5 separate regions of the Homo sapiens genome follow, and all the other regions are linked to region 5. The links come from fine-mapping of genetic effects on gene expression. A gene starts in region 5. Each other region holds a variant in brackets. All regions are shown on one strand. Distances are from middle to middle.

Region 1 (6,329 bases), 170 kb after region 5:
TAGTGCCAAAACCCCACCATTTTTCTGCCTTAGTTCCTTCCTCTAAACAAAAATCTGGAGCTGTTCTGTGTCTGGACATGGAGGGAGTTGAACACATCTTTCTTCATTAATGGGAGAAATGTAACTAAGCTTCATTCATCCAGGTAGAATTGGAATGTTGTCCAGTCTTTTTATTCTCTGCTTCCTTTTCTCTGCTAGAAATGTCTTGTCTCTTAGGAAGTTACACTATAATCATGTTATGTGTTGTCATTTTATCTTATAGTTCTCTTAAGACTTTATTGTTGTGCATATTTATATATTTCAGTGGGAGAACTGAAGTCCAATCAGTTCAGTATGGCAAAGAAAAGGCAAATAAAGACAGGGTATTTGCAAGGTAAGCCAAATCTGTTTCATTGTTTGAATTTTTTTAAAAAGATGGATTGAGTTTACTAAAAAGTTTTTCTAAATATTTTTTCTAAAGTTTTTCTAAATATTTCAAATTTTTGATTACAGAATTATCACAATTCTTTAACAGTAAATAATGTTGAGGGAATGATAAACTAGCTTGTCTAGTTTATTGATTCATTTTTTATATTAATAGTGTGCCAGGCATTGCAGTTCTGAATAGGCTGATCAAATATTATGTTATTAATATAATATTCTGTTCGAGGTTGCTCCACTTTTTTAAACATTTTTGAGAAATATAGTGACTTATTTCATGTTATCAAGCCATTTCCATATTTATTTAAATTATAATGTTAAGAGATAAGTTGTTTTATTTTTTGTTTTTGTTTACCATTTATTGTCTTTATTTCTTTAGGGTCTGTCATAGCCAATTTGCTTTTTTTTTTTTTTTTTTGAGACGGAGTCTTACCCTGTCATCCAGGCTGGAGTGCAGTGGTGCAATTTCAGCTCACTGCAACCTCTGCCTTCTGGGTTCAAGTGATTCTCCTGCCTCAGCCTCCCTAGTAGCTGGGATTACGCATGCCACCACACCTGGCTAATATTTTTGTATTTTTAGTAGAGATGGGGTTTACCATGTCAGCCAGGCTAGTCTCGAACTCGTGACCTCAGGTGATCCCCCCCACCTTGGCCTCCCAAAGTGCTGGCATTACAGGCATGAGCCACCACTCCCGACCTAGCCAATTTGCTTTTTAACAAGTGAAATGACATGATAAGATCTATGTTTTAGAAAATAGTATTATGAGCAATGATAGAGAATGGATTAGCGAGGAAAGCCTCGGTACCCAGAAACTATAAGGTAATTGCAGTAATCCAAGTGAAAATAATAAAGGCCTGAACAAAAACATTGGTAATGGAATGGAAAATAGGGAACAAATTTAAGGAACGTTTTGTAGGCAGAACTAGCAGAAGCTGATGACCAACTGGATACAGGTGTGTTAGAGACAAGAGTTTGTTTTCAGTGAAAATTACTTTGAGAGGCTAAGTCTTTTAATTAGTTATGTGTTTGGCATCTACTGCTATTAGAGGCTTGAGTTTTAATAAAGAGAACTAGAAAGTTTGCTTTTGATTTCACTTTGTTTAAATTTTGTTCTTAAGTCTTTATCTAAGAGACCTTCCTTCTTTGTGTTTCTGGAGTAAAGGGAGTTTTGTGTTCTTGGTTTTTTTCTTCCTCCTTCCAAAAGTGGAAATTGCTTTTTTCCCCTAGTAATATAAGTGATAGCTCATTATGTTTAAAAACTCCAACAGTATCAAAGAGCATAAAGAAAATTTATCATCCCAAGACAACTTTTTAAAAAAATTTTGATACTCATTATTCAGGATTTTTCTATGCATATACTCATAGAGACATTTTTATATATGTGTGTATATTTGTTTCCAAATTGTTTTAAACTATTTGTTGTTTGTTTTTATCATCTAGCATATCGTGCACATTTTCTTTGCTGTTCAAAAATCTAGTCATTTATAATGGCAATAAATCTTTTAACAGTTAAATTCTTTGATTGTAAACTGTAAACTTAACTTTTAGGATTCCTCCCTTTACTGAGCCACGTCCCTGCCTCCAGAGTAGGAGTTGTTGCTAAGACTTTGTAAGGATGTCACAGTAATATGTGACATACAGCTTACATTTAGTAGTCTACTATATGAGGAAATAATAGTTTATTACATTATGAATTAACATTAATAGAAGAGCCATAAATGGTAAGTTAATCTTTATTTTAAAAATCAAATGCATGAGATAATATACTTTATTTTCATTCTGTTGTGACTGATAGGAAAATTTGCACTGCAATATGAGGGGGTTGGACCAAACGGTGTCATGAGTTGTCTTCTAATCAAAAAATCCTATAATTTAAACCTGTGATAATGGAAAATCTTCACACCTAAATTACTTTGAATTCACTTATGGAAAATGAAATGAGTCCATGTATTTTTTAAAAAACGAATAACATTTCTTAAAATATTTTTCTGATTCTTAGTGTTGTAACAGCGTAGCAATATACTTAAAACTTTCCTTTCTTAACAAGTGTCTTCTTTCTGCTTGACTTTTATAAACAGTGTAGAACGTGCGATGTGGTCACTAGTTGTATGCAGCATATCCTCATACGAGTACCAGATCGTAGGCATATTTATGTATTAAGTTAATATCACATACAAATGGTTTCTTTATAAGTGTTAATGTTTTCATGTTTTGATCCTATCAGATTTTAGAAATAAGCAGAGTTATACCTGCATCTTAGTTGTTCATTTTGTGTATTCATTATTAAAATGTATAGTTGTTTAATAGGTTATTTTATAAAACAAATAGCCATGATTCCGTGAATAGTAGAGGTAAAATTTCAATATTATAAGCCTCAGATAACTCTCTTCCTTTTGTTTTTCTGGAATTGTGTGGTTCCTCTGAAATAATAAGGTATCAGCTACAATGAGGTTGTAATAGTACTGGGCTGTTTAATGATCTCTCTTTCTCTGAAAGATAAGCTTTTCTGGGATTGTTTTTCTAATATGTTAGGATCTAATTGTAATGAACAGATATATGTCTACCAAAATTCTCTAATGGTTTTAGTAATTATTAAGTTATTTTATTAAAGTACCAGATAACCTAGAGTTCTTTTTTTTTCTTTGGGTTTTAGTTGGCAATATGAGTAGATAGAAAAGGCTCCTCCTTAAACTTCTCATATAATAATTTTTTAGCAATCATTAAATGTTTTTTCTTTTTTCTGATTATCACCTCTTTGTGTTCGCCTCAGCAGCACATATACTGATTATCACCTCTTCAAATTGCTTTCACATTTTGCAGTTGTCATATAATATATCTAAGAAAAGAGAAAAACAATGTTCTCATACAACAGAAAAATAAGGTGCCCTAGACAGAAAAGAAGCTTACCACATCGCAAACACACTGATGCTGTGTGGTATTTTTTTCTCTGAAATTTCCACACTCAACAGGAAACATAGACAGCAAGCTTGAGTGGGTGGGTCCCTGAGGTTAAAACTGTTAATAAAATAAAATACATGAAGTTTGGTTTTAAGTTCAAAGTGTCCAGCCATGTTTAGTCCATTAACAGCAATAAAGTGTTCTGACGCTTCAGACTAGGTGAGTGTGCTGGAATTTTTTTTCTTCAAATGACTTTTTCCAGCTTTTAGAA[A/G]ATGAAAGTAGTTGATCTATTGATTACAGTTAGTGAACTTTCATACAGCTTACATTTCGTAGTTTAATATTTGAGGAAATAATAGTTTATTACATTATGAATTAGCATTAATAGAGCCATAAATGTTAATCTTTATTTTAAAAATCAAAGTTTTATGCATGAGGTAATATACTTTATTTTCATTCTGTTGTGACTGATAAGAAAATTTGCACTGCAATATGAGGGAGTTGAACTAAACGGTGTCATGAGTTGTCTTCAAATCAAAAAATCCTATAATTTAAACCTGTGATAATGGGAAATGTTCACACCTAAATTACTTTGAATTCACTTACGGAAAATGAAATCTGAGTCAATGTATCTTTTTTAAAACTAATAACATTCCATGTCTTATAAAATGCCTACAAGATTTTTGATTAAGGAAATGTCATTAGGCCAAACTAAAAAAGTTTTAGCTATGAATTGCTGAAATGACAGGACACTTCTGTGGTGTAGATTCATAAGTAACTTAAATTTTTCGTGGTTTAGTAAAATTAATAGGCTAAAATATTGCCCTGAAAATTTGGATATTCATAAATCATAAAATTCAGGAGGTAGGGAGAGACCTATGGGTCATATTATGCTAATAAATTTATACATTTAGATACAGAAACATAAGAGGTCTGTCTAATAGGAAGCCACATCTAGAATTCAGAGTCCTTATCATTATTTTAATGCTTCCTACTGTACACATAATAACAATTTGTTCAGTTCTCTTTGGTCAGTGTTATTGTGCGTGTTAGTCCGACATTTCTTTTTACACGTTTAACATATTGGAAAGGAAATTCTAGCAGGCAGTGAAACTTCAAACTTCATGAGATCATTATGTATCAGAATTCTAATGTTATTAAGTTTTAATGTAATCAGATGAGTTAATATTGCATTTGCTTTGTGCCTTCCTTGGTAATTGTTTTTTTTTTTTTAGCCATACAGAAGTGTATACATAGTACATGATGAGAGAAAAATATCCCAATGAGCTAAAAAAGCAAGTCCAATACTACCTGCAATTCTTTATCAATATAAGAAAATCTGAAAATAAATCCAAAGTCACACAACAAAGGCCTATGATTCTTATTAACTATAACCAAAAATAGTCTTCATTTTTAAATTTTACTCAAATAGGTATTTCTACCTAAATTTTTATGATCTGATTTTTGTAGGAAGACAACAGGATGTTTCATTTTTTGTAAATTGTGCTGGAATGGAAAATACATATAGTTTTTATATGCTTCAGTTAATTACTGAAATATAAAACTGTTTACAAGATGATTTATTATATACTTTATATATGTAGCTTAAATTATTCGCCTCCACATTAACTCTGCACTTCATAAAGCCAGGCATTTAAAGAAATAACATATATTTTCAGCTAATTTTGTCTATTATCTGAATTTGCATATAAAAAATACTTTATTTGTTAACATTCCTAAAATTCTAAGGGTTTATGATCTCTGCATAGATCAGTATCTTTTGATCTGAATGAATCAATATGAAGATCTTTCTTTCTTTCTTTCTTTTTTTTTTTTTTTTTTTTTTTTTTGAGACAGGGTTTTACTCTTGTCACCCAGGTTGGAATGCAGTGGTGCTATCACAGCTCACTGCAGTCTCAAATTCCTGGACTCAAGTTGATCCTCTGACTTCAGCCTCCCAAGTAGCTTGGACTACAGGCACTTGCCATCATACCCAGCTAATTTATTTTTTGTAGAGACAGAGTCTCCTTATGTTGCCCAAGCTGGTCTTGAATTCCTAAGTTCCAGTGATCCTCCCACCTGGGCCTCCCAAAGTGCTGGGATTGCAGCACTGAGCCACCTCGCGCATCCAAGATCTTTTTTTAAAACATCACTTAGTTTTCATCTTTATCATTAGGATAGCTGATAATATATAGATTGGTAACAAAACATATCCTTTTACTCCCCACCAATAGACAGAATTATTAACCCTCCAAAATGTTTTTGGAAAAAAGGGAAAAATCCACTAACCTACTATATGTAAACAATTTTTTAAGTAGATAAAATGTAATATGCATAATTATTTTTGTTCTGTCTTCATTGAGGCAGAGGATTGGGATTTAGTTATAGAAGCATTCAGGAGATAATGTGCGAGGAGTTATTTAATACATCCCAAGATAAGCTAGTGTTCCAGATACTCTGGAATAGAAGTAGGTAGTATCTGTCTTGTCAGTAACATCTGAGAAAACATTTGGTAGCAAACCCTTCCCTTTTTACCTTTGTCCTTCCTTTTCTTGTTTCTTCTGTTTTTCTCATCCTTCTTATTGTCTATCTTACTCTTCCTAGCCTGTCTTACCTTTATTCTTCATATAAAGCCAATGTACATTCTTAGGAAGTTATTTGGTAAATAGCCTCTAAATGCATTAATTTTTTACAAGTAAACTCTTTATGTTGCTCATCTAGAACATAATCTCTGAAAACAAATTGTAGGATTTGATTCATGGTTTGGGGTATAAAAATAAAACTTTTAACATATTATTTAATTTATTTCTGCAGATCCCCAAGTAAGCCCTTGGCACGGAAATTAATGGATTGGGAAGTAGTAAGCAGAAATTCAATATCTGATGACAGGTTAGAAACACAAAGTCTTCCATCACGATCTCCACCGGGAACTCCTAATCAGTAAGTGTGAATTTTGTGACCAACATCAGGTGTGAATTTTGCTAATTTCTAATTATTGGCTGTATATTTTTAT
Region 2 (6,329 bases), 160 kb after region 5:
ACTTGAGGTCAGGAGTTCAAGACCAGCCTGGCCACCATGGTGAAACCCCGTCTCTACTAAACATAGAAAAAGTTAGCTGGGTGTGGTGGTGCATGCCTTTAATTCCTGCTGCTCGGGAGGCTGAGGCACAAGAATCACTTGAACCCATGAGGTGGAGGTTGCAGTGAGCCAAGATCGTGCCACTGCACTCCAGCATGGATGACAGAGTGAGACTGTGTCTCAAAAAAAAAAAAAAAAAAAAAGACTGAGTTAGGTCCAGATTTTTCAGGCTTTTGCATATACTTCATTGCCTTTTTATTGGATAAGCAAAAAAGATCCTAGATAAAAGATCCCATAGGTTCTATCTATATCATTAACAAGTTCATGTTTACAAGGCTAGAATAATTTATCTGTCAAAAGTAAATTAAATGGAGCATTAGATCCTGACATTTTCCTGGTATTCTCTGCATTTTGTCATTTATTACAGCATGAATCTAGAGAAACATTATTGGGATTTAATATGGTGAATTACAGAGCATGTAAAAATTTGTGGAAAGCATGTGTAGAACATCACACATTCTTCCGTTTGGACAGACCACTTCCACCTCAAAAGAATTTTTTTGCACATTATTTTACATTAGGTTCAAAATTCCGGTACTGGTAAGTATTGCTTCTGTGTTAAGGCTTTATTGTTGGATTTTGTTTCCTTTCTTTAAAATAAAGATGTAGTTTATGGAACCATACAACCTTTGTTACACAAACTTAACTGAGTCAAAAATCCCTATGGATTGCAGCCTCTATATCAGTATCATTAAAAAGTTCTATAGGTTCTTGTGATATGCTACAGGCTTGAGAAACCAGTTCTGTGTTCTGTATTTGCTGTCATTATTTTCTGGAGTAAATTAACTACATTTACTTATTTACAATAAAGACAGATGACATAATTTCTATTGTGTCTTTATTAGATATTTGCTTGAAAACTTTTCTTTGTTCTAAGACACCCAAGGTATCTTATGCCTAAAACTATATAATTATTGTTTTTTAATTTAGAATTTAGCATATTTTTGGGTTGTCAAACCCTTTATTGTAAAGTGTTTAAAACAGTCACGAGGCAAAATCAGATTTAGTCATTGAACAGTAACCCCAGGTTCCATTTCCTAAAATTGTTTTATTCTTGATAGCTTTTATTTTTTCCTGACGGCAACAAATCTTTGGGGAATAACTAAATCTGAAGAAGCTCTGATTAGTTTTACCTTTGGAATTCTTAAAAGACCCATGCAAGCTAGTTTTTAAGTGGAACCTGGTAAGAATCATGTAGAAAGTTATTCATTATCTTTTAGTAAAACAAATGTTATTCATTCTTGTTTGTTTATGCTTCACATAATAAGATTTTTCATCTTTGATAAATAAAACCCTTGGCCAGTCGCAATGGCTCACACCTGTAATCCCAGCTCTTTGGGAGGCCGAGGCAGGCGGATCACCAGAGGTCAGGAGTTCAAGACCAGCCTGGCCAACATGGTGAAACCCCGTCTCTACCAAAAACAAAAAACAAAAAATTAGCTGGCTGTGGTGGTGGGCGCTTGTAATCCCAGCTACTTGGGAGGCTGAGGCACGAGAATTGCTTGAACCCAGGAGGCAGGGGTTTCATGAGCCGACATCTCGCCATTGCACTCCAGCCTGGGTGACAGAGCAAGACTCCATCTCAAAAATAAAAATAAAATAAAATGAAAAACCCTTGACCATTATGTGTTAAGATTAATTCATGTTATATGTTCATGAGAAAAATGTTTAGATGTTCCCAGAAAAGATTTAAATTGTAAACCTAAACATGTATAATTGCCTAATTTGTAATCTCCGTAAAAATAACAGTATGAAGCTTAGTACAGGATATGTCACTTGAAATACATGACTCCCACCCCAGAAAAATTAGTAAAAGTGGCTCAAAAGTTCAGTAGTAACAATTAAACAGAATTAGAATATTTTTAACCAAACAAAAGGCACAGTAATTTCCTAAGCAGTTTGCTGTCACGTTTAACTCCTTTTTTTTTTTTTGCCTTCCTAAAAGCAATTTTGAGTAAAGTAAGATGACAGTACTTGCAAATTTAAAAGCAAATAGATGGAAGGAGAGAGTATCAGATCTATAATGAAAGTCAAGGAAAAAGCAAAGAGCCTTACCTACTGTTAATAAATCTCAGCAAGGACAGAAGAAATCTCCACGGCTTTATGTGAAATGAGAACAGTACAAACCCTAAAGATATTCTTTCAATGAATTTAATTTCTGATTGGTTACCAGGGTAGTTATACAAGGACTACTCTTACCCTCTGTTCAAATTCTTTTTTCTCCTCTTTGTCCTTGCAAATGTGACATAAACACACACCATTTAATTTAGGTACAAAGAAATGAGTAGGACCAATAACCAGTCTTCAACTATAATTCAAGCAAGTCTCAGACAAGATGAGAAAAGAAAGTCAAGGAAGTTACCCAAACCATACCAAAGCAAACATAAAATTTACATACGGTGACTTCAAATACAAAAGACAGTTGAAGAAACCTGTTTGGGAGGAAATCATCACTGAAACAGAAGGAAATTTGTACCATAAATATTAATAAAAGCAAGTTCAAGGACAATCTGATTTAAAAAAAAAAAAAAAAAAAAAAGATCGGCCGGGAAGGGAGCAACACCTGCCATTCAGAAGGCTGTTACTGCCCTTGGGGAAGATTGGCCTAGTATTGACAAATTTTACATGTTTTTCGACAAAACTGGGATTAAGGACTATTAAATGGGATATGTACATTTTAGAAAGTTGAACAATTATTTTAACAGCTTTATTGAAGTATAATTGACACATAAGAAATGATCATATTCAAACTTTAAAATCTGATGTTAGTATGATGAATTACTTTGATTGCATTTCAAGTGTTAAGCCAGCCCTACATTCCTAGGATAAACCCCACTTAGCCATGATATCCTTTATATATATTGTTTGATTCACTTTGCTAAATTTTGTTTAGGATTTTTGCATATGTGTTTATGAGGGATATATCTCTGTAGTTTTCTT[T/C]CGTACGATATCATTTTCAGATTTTATTGTGTCAGGGTCAAATTGGAATCATGAATGTGTTGAGAAAGTTCCATTTTCTGGAAGAGGCTGCATAGTAATAATATTATCTCATTTTTAAATGTTTCATAGAATTTGCAAATTAATTCATCTGGGGCAGAAGTCTTACTTATAGGAAGGTTTTGAACATTCAAATTCTTTAATAGATAAGGCAATTAAGGTTTTGTCTTTCTTCCTGAGCAAGATATGGTAGTTTCTGTCTGTCAGCAAATTTATCCATTTCATCTAGGTTGTTGAATTTATTGGCACAGAGTTTATAATATTCCCCATTTCTTTTTAATCTCTCTAGAATATGTAATAATGTTGCTTCTCTCATTCTTGGTAACTTGTGTCTTCTTTTTTCCTTGATTAGTCTGCTAGTGGTTTATCAGTTTGAATTAAATATTTTAAAATAATGTAGGCCAGGCATGGGGGCCTGTAATCTCAGTGTTGTGGGAGACCAAGGTGGGAGGATTGTTTGAGGCCAGGAGTTCAAGTCCAGCCTGGGCAACATAGGCAGACCCCTGTCTCTACCAAAAGTTTAAAAACTAGCTGGGCTTTTGGCACACACCTGTAGTCCTAACTACTCAGGAGGCTCAGGGAGGAGGATCACTTGAGGCCAGGAGTTAAAAGTTACAGGACTATGATCAGGCCACTGCACTTCAGCCTGGGTGACAGAGCAAGACCCTGTCTCTAAACAACAACAAACAGTATGTATTCCAAATAAAACTTGTATCTTCAGGCTTATGTTACTTGTGGGCCATCCTTTGTCAACCAAGTCCTAAAGACAAAAACATGACCAAAAAATATTAAACATGATCACATTGCCATTCAAGTCCAAAGTCAACATATAGACATTATCCAATATGCAAAAACTCAGAGAATATAACATCTCCAGGACCTTCCTGAAAACATTTATTAAGTAGTAAAATTCAGCAAACCAGGAGATAAATCAGAATAATCCTGATTAAAAAAATAACTTTTTATCAGGTATAAAAAAATAACTTTTTATCAGGTATAAAAAGTTATTTTTATATAAAAAGCCCTGAGAGTGAAGATTAAATCCTCTCTATATAGAAACAATTCTTGACAACCGTGAGAATTATAACTGCAGAATAAAATTTAAATGGTATAAACTTTGCCAAAGTAGAATAAGTAATATAACTTTAAAAAAATGAGGCTGGGCACGGTGGCTCACGCCTGTAATCCCAGCACTTTGGGAGGTCGAGGCGGGCGGATCACGAGGTCAGCAGATCGAGACCATCTTGGCTAATGCGGTGAAACCCTGTCTCTACTAAAAATACAAAAAATTAGCCGGGCGTAGTGGTGGGCACCTGTAGTCCCAGTTACTCGGGAGGCTGAGGCAGAAGAATGGCGTGAACCCAGGAGGCAGAGCTTGCAGTGAGCCGAGATGGAGCCACTGCACTCCAGCCTGGGCGACAGAGTGAGACTCCGTCTCAAAAAAAAAAAAAAAAAAAAGCAAGGGACTAGTGGGAGGAAGTATTTGAATCCTTAAAGTTTGAAACAATTTTAGACATTAACACAGCAGTTCTTAAGGTTTTCTTCATCTTTTTTCCTTTTTTTTAATATGAATGGCAGTCTTTTTTATCTTTTATTTCACTGGAAACCAGTTTAATTTTTTTCGTTAAAAGTGGCATATATACCATAGTTTCATTGTAATAAAATTATTGTGCCTGTATGTCTAGCCTTTTTAATGTTTATATACATGAATTTCAGAATGATTTTTACCTGCTCATAATGGTGATGATTTCTTTATGGATAGGACTGTGGGTAAAAACAATTTTTTTGTTCTTTTTATATTTTTCTATGTTGCTTGAATAACTTATAATAAGCCTATATATAAAGAGAGAGAGAAAGAGAGAGAACTTTCTCATTGCTCAAAAGATAAGTATCTTACTGTGAAAGTTTAGTGTTCTGAAACTGGAACAGTTTTTCATTTTGTTGTAATGATAATACTAAATCCCTAATGTCTGTATTATGGACAATATGAAATATAAGCCTTTCTTTCATTAATTTTAAAAAAAATTGTTTCTTTATTATGAAATTTAACTTGTTACTCCAGCCTTTTGAGTAATAGTATCCCATTTGAATCTTCTTCACTGGAAAATTAAGGTATCAGTCAGAGTTCAGTCAGGGAAGCAGAAAGCCCTTTTGGTATTTCAAACAAAAGCAATTTAATTGAGGAAATTAGTTACATGGTTGTTGGAAATGCTGGGAAAACAAAAGGGTGGAAACATGGTTATGGAGAAAAAAACAAGAAGAAGGGGTAATGCCTAAAATTCAGATGCATTCAGGACTCCCTGGGCTGGAGTCCACAAACTACACCTGCTACTACACTGTTAGAGCTCTGTTTCCCTGACTGAACTCTGACTGATACATTAATTTTCCAGTGAAGAAAAATCAGTCTGCATCTTGCAGAGAAGTACTGCTTTAATCAAGGATGGGACCATCTACAGGATGCTCTTTCTCACTATACCCTATCCCCATGACTATTAAAGCAGCTGCCAGCAGCTGCCAGTTTCCTGCTCTGCCTTTCTCCACTTTCTGATCTTCCACCAGTACCTTCTAAAAGCAGAACCTAAGGCAAAATAATCTAGAAAATGGAATTTGTTTATCATAGCCCCTGCAAAACATAGGGCACAGGACAGGACTGGGCCTATGACAGCTCGCACATTAAATTGTATATACATAATTGTGTATATTTATAGTTTTAAAAAGTTAAGCTTTGCGTTTGTAGTCCTTAAGAACTTTAAAACATATCCAAAGCACTTTTTAATCATCAAAGTGGTTAGACATCTTGTAAATGAAGTAGGAATGGGAGAACTTTAAAACTTATCCAAAGCACTTTTTAATCATCCAAGTGGTTAGACATCTTGTAAATGAAGTAGGAATGAAGTAGGAAATGAAGTAAAAATGTTAACTGGACACAGTCCTGTCCCTAATGAGTATGCACTAAATAAACTTTTTTTCCCTTCATAATAAGCAGTGGTGGAGAATACTGGAACTGTTGTCATACTTAAAATGTTGAAATACTCTTTTGACTGACAGATGGTACTGGGACTATCAGATCTATTACTTTCTCCACCAGTCTCTTCATGTACATATCCTTATCTCTGTTCCAAAGTATCCAGAGGATTAACATCATTATTCTAATGTGGAAATACAAAACAGTGATGAACTTTAATTTATTACCTCCCTCTTAGAGGAAATATTTTCTTAGGAAAATTCAACTT
Region 3 (6,329 bases), 22 kb before region 5:
GCCACTATGTCCCAAGCAGGGGCTGAATCTCAGGGCTCTCAAAGCTGCAAAAGACAAGAGGTGTCAAAATGGTCTGTCCCCTCTCGGAATGCACCCCCACCTCCTGACAGAGGGACACCTGGAGGCTGGGTCATGCTCGGGAATGTCCACGCTGCAGGTTAGTTCAGGAGAACATCCCTACGCAGAGGGCAGGGCCCAGGCTGAGGGGTTTATTCAGGTTGCCACTGGATCCACCCAGCTGCCTGGAGACAGGGATTGTCCTCATTTGACCAAGTCACACAGCTAGTAGTAGTAGGTGGTGGAACCCTGTGGTGGACATTGGTCATTCTGGCTGCTTAGCATCTAGGTATACTTATTCTATGCTTTCTTGCAGAAGTTGTGCAGTTTTCAATCTTATATTTAGGTCTATGGTCCAACCTGAGTTAATCTTTGTATATGATGTCAGGTTAGCATCAAGGTTCTTTTTCTTTGTATTGGATGTCCACTTGTGGATATACAGTACTTCTTATTTGGGAGGAACATCAGGGTAAGTGTTCCATTTGCCCGCTACAGAAGATTCCATTGCCCAGTACAGAAACCAAGCTGAAGGGGAAGCTTTCCGCTCTCTAGTTGCTTAAAGGTTTCACCCTTTAGGCAGACAAGCCAAAGCACATGGTCATTTAGGGATTAGATGAGGTGGCTGTGAACAGCAGTGACAAGTGCCCCTCCCAAGTCGGTGGCTCTCAAGGTGGCCTCTGGACTGTGCCTGTCCTCCTCTACGTCTTGCCCCCGCCAAGGCCTCCCAGCGGCCCCATGATGCCATGCGCTTCCCACTGCTCCTCACGTAAATTCCTTCTCTGCTAAAGTTAACCAGAAACAGTTTGTGTTTGCAACCAAATTTGCAGCTGCTACAAGGCAGAATTCAAACTCTGACAATGTCTTGCTAAAAAACCCATGTGCTTTCTAAAATACCGTTCTTGGTGCACTGTTAAAGCTTATGTACATATAAGACATAATTATTATTACAATGCATTAAATTGGATGATATCCTAGTGAGATAGGTGGCAGGGTGGTGGTAATCACGGAAAAAAGAAAGCTCAAACCATCAAGGCTAGATGCTGTCAAGCTACAGGCTCACAGAAAGCTTTGGGAGGAAAAGAGCTACACGAGTCAGGAAAACAGCAGATTAAATAGGAAGCACCCAGCTGGGTAATGCGATTCCACCGCCTCTTTTCCAAAGAACTAAATTCAGCTGTGGCTTAAAAAAAAAATTCCTGTATGGTTTGTGGGTGGTCATAGTCATGAAACCTAGAATTTTAAAGCCAGGAAGGACCTTAAAAATCATCTGACCTTCAGACCCGCCTGGGTTTTATAAAAGAAAATCATCTATTGTACTGGCCTCATTTCCTAGATAAGGAGACTGGTTCCCAGTTAGGTTGCAAGACTTAGGAAACATCACATGCAAGGCAGTGACAGAGCCAGACTACAGGGAGGCTTTCTCTTTACCTTCACCCTTCGGAAAAGGGTGGTGAACACAGTCCAAAAAGTCAGAGGGGAACCGCTCTTACACAGTGGGAAACTAGACATTAGTTTAAGTAAGAAATCAAATTGCATGTTATGCCAGTCTTGTCATCTCTGTGAAGTCACTGATTCATTCTCAAAACCATCACCCTGAGATATACCCACTCTTTCCTGTGTTTCTACTGGGGAACTATCCAGGTAAACCTCTCCTCCCAAGGTCCTCTAGAGTGTTCCTGAGGCCCATACTTAAATAAAGCATTTGAGGGCCAGGATGTACTTGAAGTTCTTCTTCAAAGTATGTGTTTTTCTGCAGTTTACACAGGCTGTCGTACATGTATCACCTGGGAGGAGTGATAGGCTGTGGCGTTATCTCAGTGCTATGGTTTTAGCTTATAGACAGTCATTCCCATTAGCCCCTAGGGAAAAGGGATGCTGAAGAAATTCAACAGAAGACCTAAAGTTTCTATCGAGGCATTTTCACACAATCAGCCTACACTCTGAGTACAATTTAGGGAAAAGCTTTCCTTCTCCAAAATGCATTTTCTTAAGAGGCTCTGGAAGTTAGGGGAGATGTTAGAGACAGCTGACCACCTTCCCCTGTGAAGGGGCCTCCTCTCCAGCCGATCCTCCCCAGCAGCCTGAGCTTCCTAGTCAATCAGAGAGCTGTGGCCCCCCACAGCAGCAAAGTGATGTAAGCCTCAGGGAGAATGAGATCGCTCAGTTTGTAGTGATGTGGAAAGTTCTCCAAGGTTCATTGGGGATGCAAAAGTGTGATAATTTGATCACATAGGTGTAAAAAATAAACATATATGATTTAGCAAAATACATAGACAACTTCCAAAAGGAGACACATGAAACCATTAACAGTGTTTGCTCCTGAAGAGCAGGACTGGAATATCAAGGAGGGAGGGGATATTTTTGCTTTTTGCTTAAAACATTTCTGTAATGTTTACCTTAATGGCAATAACAAGAACGATGAATACAGGTTACCTTTATAATTAAAAGTAGAAACTATTTTTTTTAATCCGGTTTCCAGTTTCCAGAGCATTAGCCCTCAGACCTGGGTGGGTGGGGCTCAAACATCCATATCTCAGTAAGTTCTTCTGATGATTCTAGTGTGCGGCCAGAGTTGAAAACCACCGGGTCAAGGCATTGAGGGTCCCTGGTAATGTAGGAAGTGGGAAAGGAGGTAATGTATGAAGTGTTATGGTGTTATCTTAATATGAATCTCTCTGTCAGGTTAGCTTCTGGGGAGAAAGAGGTGCTGGCAAAATTCAGCAGAAGAGCTAAGCAGTGTGTTTCCTGGGATAGAAGTGGGTTCCTCAGGTAGGCATCTCAGGGGGCAGCCAGAGGGCACTTGGGTTGATGCCCAGGAAGCGGAGAAGAGAAAGCAAGAGAAGGCAGTTCAGGCCCACGGAGCAGGCCTCCGAGGCCCCCTATGTCCCCAGAACCATTGGCTCCATAGCCTCTGTTCTCCCCACCACAAAGCAAGGACTTGTAATGTAGGAACCCACAGGCAGTTTGAATATTTGTTGTATTTGGAAGCCTCCAAATTCTGTTTAAAAATAATTCTGGGTTTCTTTCAAAAGGCAGGTTGGGGAGAAACATCTGGAATAAAATAAACCCGCAGACCACTTGCACAGACCAAAAGGGAAAGAAAAAACATCCCACTCCAAATTACGTTATTCCCAAAAGAGCCAGGAAAGACATGAATGGGGGAAGGAAGAGTAAAAAACAAACCTCTAAATGATGTTAAGAGAGGGTGGGGAAAACCAGGGTGGAGGTCGGTCTGACAGTACTTTGCTCTCACATTTTGGAAAGAAAGAAGTTCCATTTTAGTAATTTTGAGTCTTTCTCAAAAAAGTAATTTTTCTGTACAGTTCTAAATGATACACTTGAGTCAATTCTGAGGAGCTTCACACACAACTGGTATCTACATTCCCCTCATCCCCATAGACCTGGCTAAAGAGTCAGTGTCCTGGCAGGGCACGGTGGCTCACACCTGTAATCCCAGCACTTTGGGAGGCCCAGGCGGGCGGATCACGAGGTCAGGAGATCGAGACCATCCTGGCTAACACTGTGAAACCCCGTCTCTATTAAGAAATACAAAAAATTAGCCGGGCATGGTGGTGGGCGCCTGTAGTCCCAGCTACTCGGGAGGCTAAGGCAGCAGAATGGTGTGAACCCGGGAGGCGGAGCTTGCAGTGAGCTGAGATGGCGCCACTGCACTCCAGCCTGGGCAACAGAGCAAGACTCTGTCTCAAAAAAGAGTCTGTGTCCTACCCCACTAATAATGGTTGTCCTCTCAGGGAAAGCATGTTTCTGACAGACATTGTTCTCAGCAGCAGGGCTGGTGTCTGCATGTTCCATGTACTGAGTTGAAAAGGAGCTGGC[A/G]TCCGCAAGATCTCTTTCAGAAGGGCTGATGAAGGCCTTCCAGATCATCAGCTGCAATTCCCATTGCAAATCAGTTCATCTTAGGAAATGTCTGCCGTGGGGACAAATCTTTACTGAGAGCCAACATCTCAATGGCTCATGTTGACTCCTTTAGGATAGCTAGGGGAGCCGAGCATTGCTCCCCTAGCATTGCTAAGCATCTAGTAGGGACCCTGTAGAAGTGATGTCTCTTATTCTTGCTCAGTCCTGTGAAGTCATTTTTACTGTCCACATTTCACAGATGAGGAAGTTGAGTCCTCTATGATAGCTAGGGGAGCCGGGCATTGCTCCCCTAGCATTGCTGAGCATCTAGTAGGGACCCTGTAGAAGTGATGTCTCTTATTCTTGCTCAGTCCTGTGAAGTCATTTTTAATGTCCACATTTCACAGATGAGGAAGTTGAGTCCCAGGGAGTCTGGGCTCCAGAATCAGGCAAATCTAGCTCCTCTACTCAGCAGTAGTGACTTCAGGCAAGTTACTTAACTCTCTGTGTCTCGGGTCCCTCCTCTTTAAAGTGGAGAGAACAATGAAACCTCTCTCATAGTAACAGAGAAGATTGAGAGAATGCCTCTCAAAGCATTTAGCAGACAAATATGCAACCAATAAATATTAGGTGCTATTGTTATTGATGTTGTAATGATTTAAAGGGTTAAATAGCTCACTTGAATTAAGTAATTCAGCACTGTAATAAAGTGCTGAAGCTGGGATTTTTGTTGTTGTCTTAGCCCCAGCACAAACTCTCATTACTCAGCACTGTGTCTCTAAGCTGAGGATGAAAGACAGAGACACAGACGTCAGACAGAGGCACCTGTCCTCTTCCCTCAAGGGACAGCAAAGTAGCTAAGGGTATAGATTAGGTAGATGTTGCCTTCTGGACACAAGGTTTATTTTGTGGCTTATTAGAGAGTGGGACTGACTGTCTGTCACCTGCTGTAACACAGGTCTAGGATGAGGCCCAGGAGAATTCTGCTGACCATGCAGCAGGCAGGGCCAGAAGCTGGGAACAGGCTGGCAAGGGCTGGAGAAACTGGGCACCACAGGCACTGGTGCAGGGAGGGGACACAAGGTCTGGGCACCGTGTCTGTGGGCTCAAAAGGCTGACAGTTTGGAACCATCTGGGGGATGTGGTCAGCCAAGCAGGCTGTTGGGGGAAGTGCCCAAGTCAGCAGGCTGCAGCTGAACTCAAAGGAACCTGACATGGATCTGGCAGCCAACGGGTGACCTGCAGGTGTGGAAAGTGGGATCCTGGGTTCTAGGGTCCCTTGGGGAGGTCACTGGCTATCAGTAATTTACTGGTAGCCCTGGCCATTCCTAGTCTTTCCTAGTGAGGGTGTGTGTAAAGAACCCACAGGAAGGCCGGGCGCGGTGGCTCATGCCTATAATCCCAGCACTTTGGGAGGCCGATGTGGGTGGATCACCTGAGGTCAGGAGTTCAAGACTAGCCTGGCCAATATGGTGAAACCCTGTCTCTACTAAAAATACAAAAAAATTAGCCAGGCATGGTGGTGCATGCCTGTAATCCCAGCTACTTGGGAGGCTGAGGCAGGAGAATTACTTGAACCCAGGAGGTGGAGGTTGCAGTGAGCTGAGATTGCGCCACTGCACTCTAGCCTGGCAACAGAGTGAGACTCCATCTCAAAGGAAAAAAAAGAACTCACAGGAAAATAGGAGTCAAGCACTATCATTGCTATGCTAGGCACTTTGCACGTCCCATCTCAGTTCCCACAACAGGCCCATGTGGTAGCTATTCTCATTCCCCAGGTTATCAAGGAGGAAACTGAGGCTCATACAAGTTAAGAAATTTGCTCAAGGTCAGCGTTAGAGTGTCTAATAAGCTAAATAAATGTCTGCTTAGGATACCTGCAAAGCAAGAGCACCTAAAAATTTGCTTCTGAAATAATTTTAAAATTGATTTTTCTAAGACTGCATCAAGGGAATCATTGCTGGAAAAAGAACTTTGTTGAATTTCCTTACAATTATTTTTATGCCCTAAACAGAATGGAAAGGGATAGGTGGAAAAAAGCTTTCTCCTCACTTTTCTCTCTTTTTATAGTGAGGGAATGAGGTGATTGGGAGGAAGAGGGAGGATTCTTTTCAAGAAGTCCTCAGAAAATGTCCTCCAACATCCCATTGGCTAGGACTGGGTCGCACACACCCCTAGACCAGTCACTGGCAAAGAGAAACCACATTGTGTTGATTGTCTTACAACAAGCACAGTGTGTACTGTGGTGCTGGGCAAATGGCCACATCAACAACACTGGGTTCTGTTAGCAAGAAGAAAGGGCCAACATAATGGTGGTTGAGTAGGCTATGGATGGAGCTATCGCAACCCTTCAGGTGCTCCCAAATCCCAGAGAAGCTAGGAAAGCACAGACGTTTCATTTACCAAATGGTTAC
Region 4 (5,660 bases), 330 kb before region 5:
GAAGACCTGGTTGGTAAAGGCGGGGCAGCAGGAGGAGAGGAGAGGGAAGAGGCCATGGGCCACAGACAAGGCAAGACCTGGAGAGGTCAGAAGTACAAGGCACGGGCGGCAGGGAGGGTGGGTCATCCTGGCACCATGCAGCTTTAAAGCTACCCAGTGAGCTTCAAGGGGCTGCTCCTTGCCAACTCCCTGCTATTACCTCTGGGTGTTTGGAGTGTGTCTGCCCCACCTCGTCCCTCCCACCTTCCAACTCCTCAAAAGAGAAACTTCCAGCACTGGGAACTACCCCCAAGACTAAATCTCCGCACAGGGGAGTCGCCTCTCAGATCTAAGTTTCCCTGGGAGCAGGGACCGCGCAAACTTAGAGCCCCCTGGAAACTGGATGGTAAAGATCATGAGTTATTTAGACTTATGCATATGCCAGCCGGGATGGTGCACCTGACACCTTATGCACATTCATTGCTTCATGGGATCCTCTCAACACCAGGAGGGAGATGCTTCCCATTTGACAGAAAAGTGAGGAGCACAGAGGGGAAGTATTTGCTCAGAATGCATTAGAAGCCTGGTTCTTCTGTAAGCAAACCTTATTGACCAACCTGTATTTAGGGACTGGGCATGGAGTGGTGAAAGAGGGAAAAAGTCCCAGCTCTCATGGAGCCCATGATATTTTAGAGAGGGAAAGGGACAATCCAGGAAATAGACAAATAGCCACTTTCAGCTAGTGATCAAGAATTTACAAAGGTAAAAGAGTGGCAAGTGGGGGGTGGAGTGTTACTCTGGCTGGGAAAGTCAGGAGATGCCCCTGAAAAGGCCCTGCAGACACCCAGGGGAAGGTCTTGGCAGGAAGGTCGGGGGCTGGGGGGCCAGGAACCAAAGCTTCCTGAGCCTTGGAAAAGAGGGATGGGAAGATGCTTGAAGGGACAGAGGAAGTGAGAGTGAAGGCTGTTCCACAGGCATCCAGGCTAGAGAGGAGGGGATCTGGGGTGGGCTGAAGCCGGGCAGGCACTGGAGGGGCAGAGAGGAGAGGATGGAGTATATGGAGGGCGTGAGGGCAAAGAGAGCAGGAGGATGTGGAGCCTGAACTACCGAGGCCTGGGAGAGAGCAGAAATGGAGAGGTAGGTTTGGACTCTAAAACTCAAGCACTTTACCATTGACAGGGACTTTGTCTTTTTCTTCTTTGTCCCTCATTGGTCAGGACAGTTGTGACTACATAGTAGGTATTCAATCACTTCATTCATTTAGTCAATGAATATTTATTGAGAACCTACTACATGCCTGGCTCTGTCGTAGGCACCAGCGATACACTGGTGAACAGGACAATGCCCTTGGCCTCTTGGAGCTTACATTAAAAGGGGGAGAGAGGACAAGTAAATATGTGTATGTGGGCAGAAGAGAAAAGAGAATGGAGGGGCTGTTTTAGATGTGGGGGTCGTCGTAGGCCTCTCTGATAAGGTGACATCTGAGCCCAGACTTTAAAGAAGTGAGCTGGTGAGTCTTAAATGGGAGTATCTGGAGGAAGAACATTTCAGGCAGAAGAAGCAGCAAGTACAAAGGCCCCGAGATGAAAGAGTGTTTGCTGACTGAACAACAGATCTAGTGCTTGTTGACTGAATGATCAGGAATTGTGTCCCTACCAATACACTTGAAACTCTCTAAGGAACATGCCTGGATCTTCCTCATCAGGCAAGAGTGGTCAGAGGGGTGGGAAGGAGCCACTTCCTGCCTTTCTTTAAGCCATTCCTCTTTCCCCAGCCCTGGCCAGGCCTAGAAGCAGGGGTCAGGGAGGGTCAAGTGCCGAGTCTGTCACAATCTGGACAAAGGGCAGAGAAAGTCAAAGAATAGGCAGGCTCCATGCTGTCCCACAGCCCAGTACTCATGCCCATGCTGTTTCTGCTTTTAACACCTGGGGGTCCACCCGGTAATCCAACCCCCACCTCTGCCCCTGCCATGTTTCCCCTCACACTAAAACTCCCTGCTTCTCTGGACATTCTTCTCCTGGTGCGGTATTTGTCTCTGCAGGGTTTAAGGGAAAGCTTCTTCACCCTCTGAAGTTTCAATGAAAAATAAACTCACAAAAGGCACATTAAATGGAGAAAAGGTATATACATTAATTCAAGGTGTACACCCCGGGAGAATCACGGAGTATGCCCACCCCTCAGCAGTGCTCAGAAGCTTCTATACTATCCTGGCAGAACAGGTGATGGGAGAGGAGAGAAGACGAATTCTGTAGAGGGGCTAGCCGAATGGATCAGGGAATAGAGATTAACTTGCCGGGTGTGGTCACATTCTCAGTCCTACAGGGAGGAGAAGAAACACAATTGTTCCTTTTGGTGGGTCTGGATGTTAGGCAGATAAAGGAACTTCAGTTTCATCCTGTGTTTTGGGAGAGACGGTGAGGGGAGGGAAGGTCAGAGAGACCTTGAGGCTTTTTCAGTTGTGTATGTCAAAGCGCCATGCTTTGGGACTTCTGACCCCAATACCTCTGGCTATCTCACCAGGATTTGAGAGGGCTGTGGATGCTGCCACTCCCCGCACCACCCCAACCCCCTAAGCCAGAGAGGTACCAGGAGACTCCAGGTCTTAGAGTCTCAGCTCAGATTCCACCCAAATTCTGGCCATATTCCCAGTCCTCATGTGAGCATAAGATGATCAGAACTGGATAGTCACTTCCTCCTTATTATTCTTAAGTCATTTCTGCTTCTCCAACTATCTTGCTGACAAGACATGTTGCTCTAAATTCTACTGATTCAATACTTTTCTATTCTTACCAACAAAGCGTAACAGGCTGTGAGAAACATGCCTGACCACACACGAAACTGGAGAAGGCAGTGGGTGCAGATGACCCGACCTGACTGTTCTTCTGATTTTAATTCCAGGCACTTCCCTCTTGGCCAGGTGAGATGCTATGATCCAGAATCTCACCTGGGAGAGCCCACAGGGCATTCTTAGGGCTCAGTGAAAGGATACCCCCGCAACAGGACAGGTCTTCCTTTCCCATGTGGGCTCTTTATCCAGAACCCAGAGCTGCGGAGAGTCTGGCTTCTGGGACCCTTGACTGGGGAGAAAGCAGGTGGGGGCCACGGAGGGAAG[G/T]CCCCAGAGCAGAGAGGCACCAGGCTGGCTGAGCCTGGGCAGCTGCCCTTTGCCTTAGCTCAGTGGTTCTCAAAGCCTGGCCCCCAGGCCAGCAGCACCAACATCACTTGAGGCCACTCAGCCAGAAACTCTGCAGTGGGGCCTCGCAATCTGTTTTAACAAACCTTCCAGGTGACTCTGGTGCAGAATGGTGGCAAGAACTCAAACCTGGACTAGGCCTGCTGGGTAAGTGGAGTCCCAGCTCTCCAGTGGACTCAATGTGGGTGGCCTGGGCCAAGCCTTCCTGTGCCTGGGCCATTTCTCCGTTTGTCAAGCTCCAGGACTGGGGTAAAGGATTTGACAAGGTCTGTTGGGCAGGGATGGAATCAGATGAATATCTAAGTGGAAGATATACAGACAATTGTAACTACCCCTCTTTCTCACATGGCTCTAAAGGGGAAAACAGATGAGTGCAGTTGCTTTGTCTTTGGGTAAAGTCACCAGGAGCTGCCTGCCTGAGTGAACCAGACAATTTAATGTGTGCCATTTAGTGAGGGGCCTTGTTTTACCACCACATTTGAGGATGGGGGGAGGGAAGCCTTTCTGTTGGAATTTGTGGCCCTTGGACACTCCTCCCACCTCCACCCTTTTTGGCGGTAAAAGCTTTTAGGTGCTGCCTCTTTAAGAACTCAGATCCGGCCGGATGCGGTGGCTCATGCCTGTAATCCTAGCACTTTGGAAGGCCGAGATCGGTGGATCACCTGAGGTCAGGAGTTCGAGACCAGCCTGACCAAAATGGTGAAACCCCCGTCTCTGCTAAAAAATACAAAAATTAGCAGGGCTTGATGGGGCGCGCTTGTAATCCCAGCTACTCGGGAGGCTGAGGCAGGAGAATCGCTTGAACGGGTTTGAACCCAGGAGGCGAAGGTTGCAGTGAGCCGTGATCGCGTCATTGCACTCCAGCCTGGGCCACAAGCGCTAGACAACGTCCAGAAAAAAAAAAAGAGAGACCTCAGTTCCCATCGAGGTGGAGAAAAAATAACCACATTTGTTTGGCATATTTGCATTTTTAATAGTCCCTGAGGAGTTCAGGAGGAAACAGGGTTTTACATCCCCTTTTAGGGACGCAAGTAGGATTGCCCCAAAAAGTTCCACTCCGTTCACACTCAGCGAGGGCCCGGCAAGAGCCCCACCTTTCACATTCATTATTTCCCTTACTAACCGAGGCTCCGAGACGCTAAACAAGCAGCCCAAGGTCACACCGCAGAGTGAGGGCAGCAGAGCCTCTGCGCCTGCCTCCTCCCTTCGGACCCTGCCGCGTTCCCAGAGGCTGGACTCAGCAAGCTGGAACAGGAATCGAACCCTCAGGCCCTCGTCGCCGTCCCAGCCCTCGAGGAATCTGCGCCCCAGGCGAAGCTGTCCTCGGAGGTTCGGGAGCGTCGGAGTGACTTCCCGATCCTTTCCCCTGGGACCCGAGGGATCCCTCCCCCCAAGTGCCGGGTCCTCCCCGCGGCTCCCCAGGGGCTCCTCCGGCCGCCCTCGCTGACTCAGCGTAATCCGAGCCGCGGAGGGCGGCGGGGTTGGCGGAGCCCGCCCGGGGTTAATCGCCGAGCTTTGAACGCCCCCTCCCGCCCCGCCCGCCTCCAGCAGCCGCCCCGCCCCTGCGGAGAAGTCCCGGGCTGGCGCCGGCGGCCACAGCGGAGCAGCTGGAGCGATCGAGGCTGCAGCGCGGCCGCCGGGCGCAGCATGACTGCCGTCGGCGTGCAGGTAGCCGGCGCCTGGCGGGGCGCTGACCCGGGGTGCTGCCCCGCCGTGGGAGGTTGGGGGTGGGAGGACGGAGGGAGGGGCGTACCCACCGCGAGCGCCGGCGTCGGGCTGGGGGTGCGAGCGCCCCCCGTGCCCGCCCCCTGTTGCAAACCTGGGTCCGGAGGAGGCTGGGCGGGGAGCAACCTCGGGGGGCCTGCCTGCCTCACATAGCTGCTCCCGAGGCGCGGACTCCGGCTGCTTCTGCTCGCGGCCTTGCAAGCACCCGAGGCTCCCAAACTTCATTTGGAAAGATTTTTCTTCTCTTTGGTGTCACCAGTGACTTACTGGTCAGTTTACCATAAGGGTCCCCCTTTGTGAGAAATGAGGCGCGTCTGGGGTGGAGGGACAGAATCGACTTGCAAAGTGAGGCTTATGTAACAGAGGATGCGTCTCTTGGGAAGTTAGACCTTTCTGGGGGTGGAGGTTAGGAAGACCGTCTCCCTCCCCAAAGCTGCGTTTGGGGTGCTGGGCTGGGGGTGGACTTGCTGAGTCGCGCGGACACCTCAGGGAAAGGCTCTGGCGAGGGAAGAAGCCCGTGTCTCCGAAGATTTGGCTTCTCCTTAGCGTAGTGCACGATGTTTATGTTGGCTAAGAACCTACACATTCCTACCCGCTCCCTCGGGCCTGCTGCTCCCCAAAGGGAAGTCAGTGGGTGGCGGTACCGCTGCCCAGCGGGCGAACTTCCTTTCCGCGCAACTCGCCCGCTGCAGAGTCTATCCGCTGGACTGTCTCCAGGATTAGAGAGGCCCGTTGACTTCGTGTACAAACGCTCAGCCACAACACT
Region 5 (6,329 bases):
CTTATAGCTCACGTCTATAAAACTAAAACAATTTTAGAAATTAAATTCACAAATTTAAAAAATTCAATTAATATGATGTATGTAATGTGTGGTGAATTATATTTGTTGTTTTGCTGAAATTAAATTGTCCTTTGATATGAGAATATGGAACTCACTGCTATGGTATGTACTTTTTTGTTTGGCATGCTTATAATTGACTTAATTATCTCAACATTCTTCTCTATTTGAATTTCTGTTAAACTTCTGTGCAGTGTGCCGTAAAGGACGTATGACCTTCACTTAGCCAGAATGCTGTCCTTTCCACAAGAAGTATTCTATTCTTTTCCCATTAGCCCCAGAAAATTAAATTTGTGGTTGGTGCCAAATACAAAATCAAGTGCAGGGTTTCGTTACAAGGTGGTCATCAAATGATCCAATATAGTGACTAGAATATATTAACTTTTAAAAGAACATAATTTAAGTAAGAGCAAAATATTTACATATTTTATAGATAATTTGCATATATTTTTTCTTAGACTCCAGTTTAAGGAACAGTAGTCTACACCCCTGCTACTCCAGGGTGGTCCAAAAGCCAGGGAGCTTGTTAGAAAGAGTCTCTAGGCCAGGTGCAGTGGCTCACTCCTGTGATCCTAGCACTTTGGGAGGCCAAGGCAGGAAGATTGCTTGAGGTCAGGAGGGTTCAAGATCAGCCTGGGCAACACAGTGAGAGCCTGTCTCTATTGAAAAAAAAAAAAAAAGAAAGAAATGCAGAATTTCAGGGCCCACTCTAGACCTAATGGATTAGACCATGCCATTTAATAAGAACTCCAGGTGATCAGCATGTATATTAAAGTGTGAGATATACTAATTTATTATTTCCCAATTCAATTTTCAGTGGGCCCATGTGAGCCTGGGGCACAGTCTAAAGCTCTCTCTCTCTTTTTTTTAAGGACAATAATTGCTTCTTCTCTTTCCAGGGTTGCAGGCAGGTAGATTTAAGGTGAACTCAGATTTTTCAAGGAATAATGGTGAGTATTGGTAACTTCAAAGGGTCCATCCTGGTGACTTGCAGGGGAAGTTCCACTCAGGAACTTTTGTGTCTTGCTTAACACCAGACACAAGACTACATGTAAGCCATGTGGCTCACATGTGTAATCCCAGCTACTCCGAAGGTTAAGGTAAGATGATCTCTTGAGCCCAGGAGTTGGAGACCAGCCTGACAACATAGCGAGACCTTGCCTCTAAACAAAAATTACATATTGTATGATTCTATTTATATGAAACATTCAATTTCTGGTGGAAGTCTCATATGATCTTTGGTTGGAGGATGACTGGATGTTGACAGATGACAATGAGGTGAAGAGCATTTTAGCAGAGGGAATGGCATGATCAAAGACAAAATGGAGAGTCAGAGGCAGGAATGCATATTTAGGGAGGAATGAATGAGCACTGGCTACAACAGAGATCTGGGAAGAAAAGCAAGTGAAGGAAGTAAAGCTGGAAACATGGATTGACAAGTTGCCTTTTTCAAATGGAAAAACTAACAGGTGTGAGGGAGAAGAGAGTCAATAGAAATTTCTGTCTTTTCCAGATTTGTTCACATTCCCCTGATTTGTAGTCATTTTGTCGGCTTGGGAAAGTGGTTTTTGAAAGATCGTCTTTATAAAGGTAGGCTCTGATAGGATGCTCAAGCTAAGAGCAAGGAAGGACAAAGAAGGCGCCTGGCGACAGAAAAGGGCACTAACAAAAATTGGGCAAAAAGGAAGTGTGGCGGTCCCCAAATCCCTTCTTCCTCCATTTCAGCTGAGATCATTCGCCAGTAGGCAACTGTGGTATTACCAATAAGTTTGTATCACCAATAAAATATTATAATGCACCTGGCTAAAAACCCTGGCGTGATAACACCAAATTCATGTTATTAGAAGGAATTAAATTTTAAAAAGCACACCGTTCCAGGCACACAGAAGGAGCCCCCGAACGTTTGTTTTATAAACGCAGGTTGGTTGCTGAGGCTTTGTTTTGGAGCCTACGTTTAGGAGAGGAAATGATTCAAAACTGCCCCCCAAAACCTATATCCTCCAGGAGCACTGAGGTTGGGGCGACCTGCTGCCAACTGGTCTGGTTTTCCCTTTTAACACACGCTTCTTGCCCACTATCCGGTCCCTGCGGTCAGTGGGTGCAGCAGGGGTCGCAGTCCAAACAACCAATCGCGACGCGGCTGCGGGGCGGGGGCCACAGCGCTCCGCCTCCCCCCTCCAATCCGCCCTCCCAATCCTCCTAGGCCGCTCTCTCTCGCACCTGCGTGTCCCTCTGCGCTCCGACTGGTGCGACTTCTCCCTGCGCTAGCGAGGCAGGGTTTTGGCCTCGCCTCTCGCGAGATCGCCTCCTGTTGCTGCCGCCGCCGCTCCTGGCCACTGACTGGCGGCGCCTGCGCAGCCGCCATGTTCGGTTGCTATGCTGCGGCCTAGGAGAGGGGGTGTGCTTGAGGGAGGAGGAAGAGATAGAGGAGGAGGAGGGGGAGGAAGAGGAGGTGGAGAAGGAGGGGGGTGACTGAGCTCCTCTTGCACTCTCACACACAAACGCTGCCCAGGATTACCCGCCAGCTCACGCCGCGCAGTGCGCTTTTCCGCTCCTCGCGCCCCACCACCAACATTGTTCTCTCAGGACTCCTGGGTCCCAGGGGCCGGAATTGGGCCTGAGCGGGAGAGGAAAGAGACTTGGCTTTGGCCGCGGGGTCGGAGGATTGGGGCCAGGCCCCCTCCCCCACGCACTTTTGGGGGTGTGGATTATCTCATCCCTGCAGGGAGGTAGGAGAGGTCGCCGGCTGCCCGCCTCCCTGCCACCTCCCCAGCGGCGCCGGCCCGCGGCTGCCCAGCAGCATGAGGTGGTGCTGGCGGCTCCGGGTCGTGGCGCGACCGCTGCGGCGGCGGCTGCTCGGGGGGCGCTGAGGTAGCCCCCCGGAGCGGCACGGAGGACGCGCTTCTCCTCTGCGCGCCGGGGCCTCGAGGCTTTTTTTCTCCAGCCGAGAGGACGCGGCTGTGATATACGAAGGTAAGAGGTTCTCCGGTCCCCGCCGGCCTCTCGGCCCTGCACGTTGAACGGGAGGCTCTTACCTGCATGTGTGGCTCCTGGGAGGTGAGCCAGGTGGGGCAAGCCGGAGGTACGAGGATGATTTGAAAGGAAGGAAAAAAGGACAAAAACAAACAAACAAACAAACAAAAAAACGCTTTCTTTCCTTTCTTCCTGGGACCTCTGCTTTTGCGGGGGTTATAGTTGGAATCTCTGTTATGGGTCAGCGAAGGGCCAAGGGATGGAATAGGTGCGGAGATGGAATGTTCCCAGTACCTAAACTCTAGGTAAAGCTTTGGAATCTTGAGTTTTCCATTGCTGGTAGAATTCCTTTTTTTTTTTTTTTTTTTTTTGGCTCATATGAGCGCTTCTTGCACGCTGCATGAGCCAACTATTCCTACCATTGAAGTTTTAAGCCTGTTATGATTCTACCAGTATATACCTGTATTTGGGAATCTGTAGTTGAGCCAAAAAAAAAAAAAAAAAAAAAGTTGAGATGTGGGTAAACAGTGATGCATTTCGCAGGGTTTCCATAAAATGGAACAGCTTACAGTTGCACAGGTGATGTGTGGATGTTTCTGCAAAACTTAGGGTGGAAGATTTTATGTCTGGGCTTGCATCATGTAGTGACATCAGTATGTACAAGGACGATTTGTAGGATTTTTCAAAACGCCTGTTCTAGGATAACTTGTTATGCATCTGCAATATGCCAGCTGCTTTTCGAATAAGAGGTTTCAGTAATACTAAGTTTCTGTGTCCAGATCTTGGGCCCAGTTGAAACAGTACAGCTGATTGGTCACATTTAAAACATATTTATGGAGAAAGATAAAAGGCCAATGTGTCCGACTTGCAAAAGACAATTAGAGTAGAAAGAAGACTGGAACAGTAAAAGCCAGGGCATTTTTAAATCTTGGTTTTCTGAACTTTAACGTGCCAGAGGAAAAAAATTTTTTTTCAATTTTAAGGGGGAAGGAGATGGCCTTAAAATAAAGGATTGTTCAGAGCCTAAACTGTGCTTAATGGAATAGAGCTAGGTATATCATCTAAATCTTGAATTTGACTAATATAAATTCAGCTTTCTTTTAAAGAAAAAACTCGTAAGCAGAAGTTTGTGTATTCTACAGAACCTCTTCACTAGCTCGTAAGTGTGATCATTTTGTGGACATCACTGTTTTTTTGTTAGAATAAATTTATGCTCCAATTACCACAAAAGCAATTTTTATGTCTCTTCGCATTTTTTATGGTACACATATCTTTGTTACATTTTGCATTGAAACACGCACGGTCCCATAGTATCATAATCTTCAGTGATTTATAAGAGAAACAGTCTATTTTGTACATGGGAATGTTTGTCATGTTGCCAGTCTGTTTTAAAAATTTGGCAAGAGGTTTTTAAAATCCAAGGAGGCACCACTATTTTGTAGTTTTTAAAAATATTAATTGAGTAGGTCCATGTTTATTAAGTTAGAAAATCACGAGTTCCTCAAAAGTAGTAATAGACGAGGATGTGATTTTTCTTACTGCCCATTTTCTAACATCTTAGCTTCAGAGCTGTAGGTATTGAATTGAGTCAAACTTGTGTTTTTTTCTTATGTTCTAATTAAATATCTTTTAAAATGTCCCTAGTAACATTGTTACTTTAAATTTATAACACCCAATTTCTAATTTAGGCTAGGCATAAAACCAGCATTGATTGAACGTACTTGCTAAAAATACTTTCTGGGTCGGATGTACTTAGAATGCAGCCTCAGGAAATTTCATTTGAACTATTCTGTGACCAGTGTACACTTCATTATTGTTGAAGGACTTTTAAAAAAAGTATAGATCTCTCATACTCGATTTAATCAGTTTGAGCATAGATGCCTAACTTTAAAAAAAAAGTATAATAAAGTGGGATAGTAATACAATTTACGTGAGATGGTAATAAAAACTTTTCAGCTTTTTTTTTTAACTTGTATGACTTCGTTAGGTTGTTATTAAACTGTGATTTGTATTTTTAAAATAGTTTTGTCTGTTAAACATAATTGAGGTGTACAGTACAGTATCCATTGTTATCTGTTTAGTATTTATTTATGACTTACAAACTCTAAAAGCGGGATCAGTGATCATGGTTTTTAGTAAGTTGTCTTTAAGGAGCAAAGTAAGAGACTAGCAGAAAATTGCAAGGAGGTTTGTTATTGAGAGTACTTCTGCCCCCCGCTTGAGAGTTAATATGGCCACTTTTAAACAAGAAAAGTTTTCCAGAAACGTGGAAATCTTGTTTGGTGTATGTTTAGGGGCAAATGTTTTAAAGTTTTGCCTAAATTCTTAGTTAGAATGCAAAATTGATCAACTCCCTAGGAATGGTTATTGTGGCTAAATATGAATTGTTGCTCCTATGTAAAATTTAGTTATTGGTAGAAGTTTACTAACTGAGTTGAATTTTGTTGTTTTCCTGGGTTATTGCATGTTATGAAGTTTTTTATGTACTATAATCCAGATTTGTTAAATTTGCCAGTTTACTAGAATAAGCTGTGAAGCCTTGAAGTTTGGCTTAGCATTCTGAAAATCCTTTTTATTGTTTGCCAGGAAAGCACTGTAGGAAGGAGGTGTTATCTCTTCATTTAATATTTAATGAGTAGTATAGATGATGAGATAGGATATAATGTAGAAATACCGTAGAATCTTCTTTATTGATATGAAAGTACCATTGTCTAGGAACAGCATAATTTCTTATCTTTTGCATGAATGGGGAAAAAGAGGAGGGGAAATTTATTAGACTCTTTCATTTCATTAGAGATATCTTCCCTCACATTCATTCTTCATTTCATTATTCTTAAGTAGAAACTTTGGAAGAGAGATGCAAGTATTTGAATTAATTAGTAAGAACAAAATGAAAATTACATCGTATAGACTATCATGAGGAAAATATCAATTTGGGTTGGTTATTGTGTTTGTATTTTTTAACAAGGAGGTTATATAGAGTAGTAGAAAGAAAAAAGGACCCAGAGGGGAAGAGTGTTAATATTTATTGTCTGTTAAGTGTCAGATCCTGTATAAGGGGCTTTTCATGTTGTCCCACTCACCAAGTATGCTTTATGAGGTAGGTATTATTAATCCCCTGTCCTCTCCCTGCCAAATAGAAGCTAAGGGAAATGAAATAACTTGTCTAGGCTCATACTTCTAGTAAGTGGAATTCTCTAAAACTTATTCTTTAGATCGGTTCTGTCCAATTAAACTTTCTGCAATGATGGAAATATTCTTTTTTCCTTCAACTTTATTGAAGTATAATTGACAAATAT

Direction of the effects. Positions count from the first base shown, and alleles are read on the strand shown. Sizes are in standard deviations (SD) of each study's normalised expression. Not every link is listed here.
As copies of A replace G in region 3, the expression in CD4 T cells of the gene that starts at base 2,568 in region 5 goes up (large effect, 1.0 SD a copy in CEDAR).
For the expression in subcutaneous fat of the gene that starts at base 2,568 in region 5, G is the low allele of the variant in region 4 and T is the other (large effect, 1.6 SD a copy in TwinsUK).

What was found. PIP is the estimated chance that this variant, and not a neighbour inherited with it, causes the effect.
Region 1: its variant is the best candidate, but not a certain one, in a credible set for the expression of PTPN4 in whole blood (INTERVAL, PIP 0.89).
Region 2: its variant is the best candidate, but not a certain one, in a credible set for the expression of PTPN4 in whole blood (INTERVAL, PIP 0.66).
Region 3: its variant is the best candidate, but not a certain one, in a credible set for the expression of PTPN4 in CD4 T cells (CEDAR, PIP 0.79).
Region 4: its variant is the best candidate, but not a certain one, in a credible set for the expression of PTPN4 in subcutaneous fat (TwinsUK, PIP 0.72).

What each region holds. Positions count from the first base shown.
Region 1 is chr2:119,926,294-119,932,622 of GRCh38, forward strand. PTPN4 (protein tyrosine phosphatase non-receptor type 4) reads left to right here. Exons shown (of 27, transcript NM_002830.4): 13 at 305-373; 14 at 6,131-6,256. Among named protein-coding and RNA genes, the nearest start is that of EPB41L5, 84 kb to the right of the region's middle. The variant A/G (reference allele first, on the strand shown) is at 3,591.
Region 2 is chr2:119,919,603-119,925,931 of GRCh38, forward strand. PTPN4 (protein tyrosine phosphatase non-receptor type 4) reads left to right here. Exons shown (of 27, transcript NM_002830.4): 12 at 467-639. Among named protein-coding and RNA genes, the nearest start is that of EPB41L5, 90 kb to the right of the region's middle. The variant T/C (reference allele first, on the strand shown) is at 3,040.
Region 3 is chr2:119,735,049-119,741,377 of GRCh38, forward strand. The region is part of intron 1 of LOC101927764 (a long non-coding RNA gene); the gene reads right to left. Among named protein-coding and RNA genes, the nearest start is that of PTPN4, 22 kb to the right of the region's middle. The variant A/G (reference allele first, on the strand shown) is at 3,895.
Region 4 is chr2:119,427,088-119,432,747 of GRCh38, forward strand. It overlaps TMEM37 (transmembrane protein 37), which reads left to right and starts at 4,767. Exons shown (of 2, transcript NM_183240.3): 1 at 4,767-4,837. The coding sequence starts at 4,817. RefSeq lists a silencer at 4,539-4,918 and an enhancer at 5,202-5,660. The variant G/T (reference allele first, on the strand shown) is at 3,092.
Region 5 is chr2:119,757,355-119,763,683 of GRCh38, forward strand. PTPN4 (protein tyrosine phosphatase non-receptor type 4) reads left to right here and starts at 2,568. Exons shown (of 27, transcript NM_002830.4): 1 at 2,568-3,030. It overlaps LOC101927764 (a long non-coding RNA gene), which reads right to left and starts at 2,360. Exons shown (of 4, transcript XR_007087215.1): 1 at 2,278-2,360. RefSeq lists silencers at 2,110-2,219, 2,770-3,069 and enhancers at 2,259-2,553, 2,270-2,529, 2,800-3,424.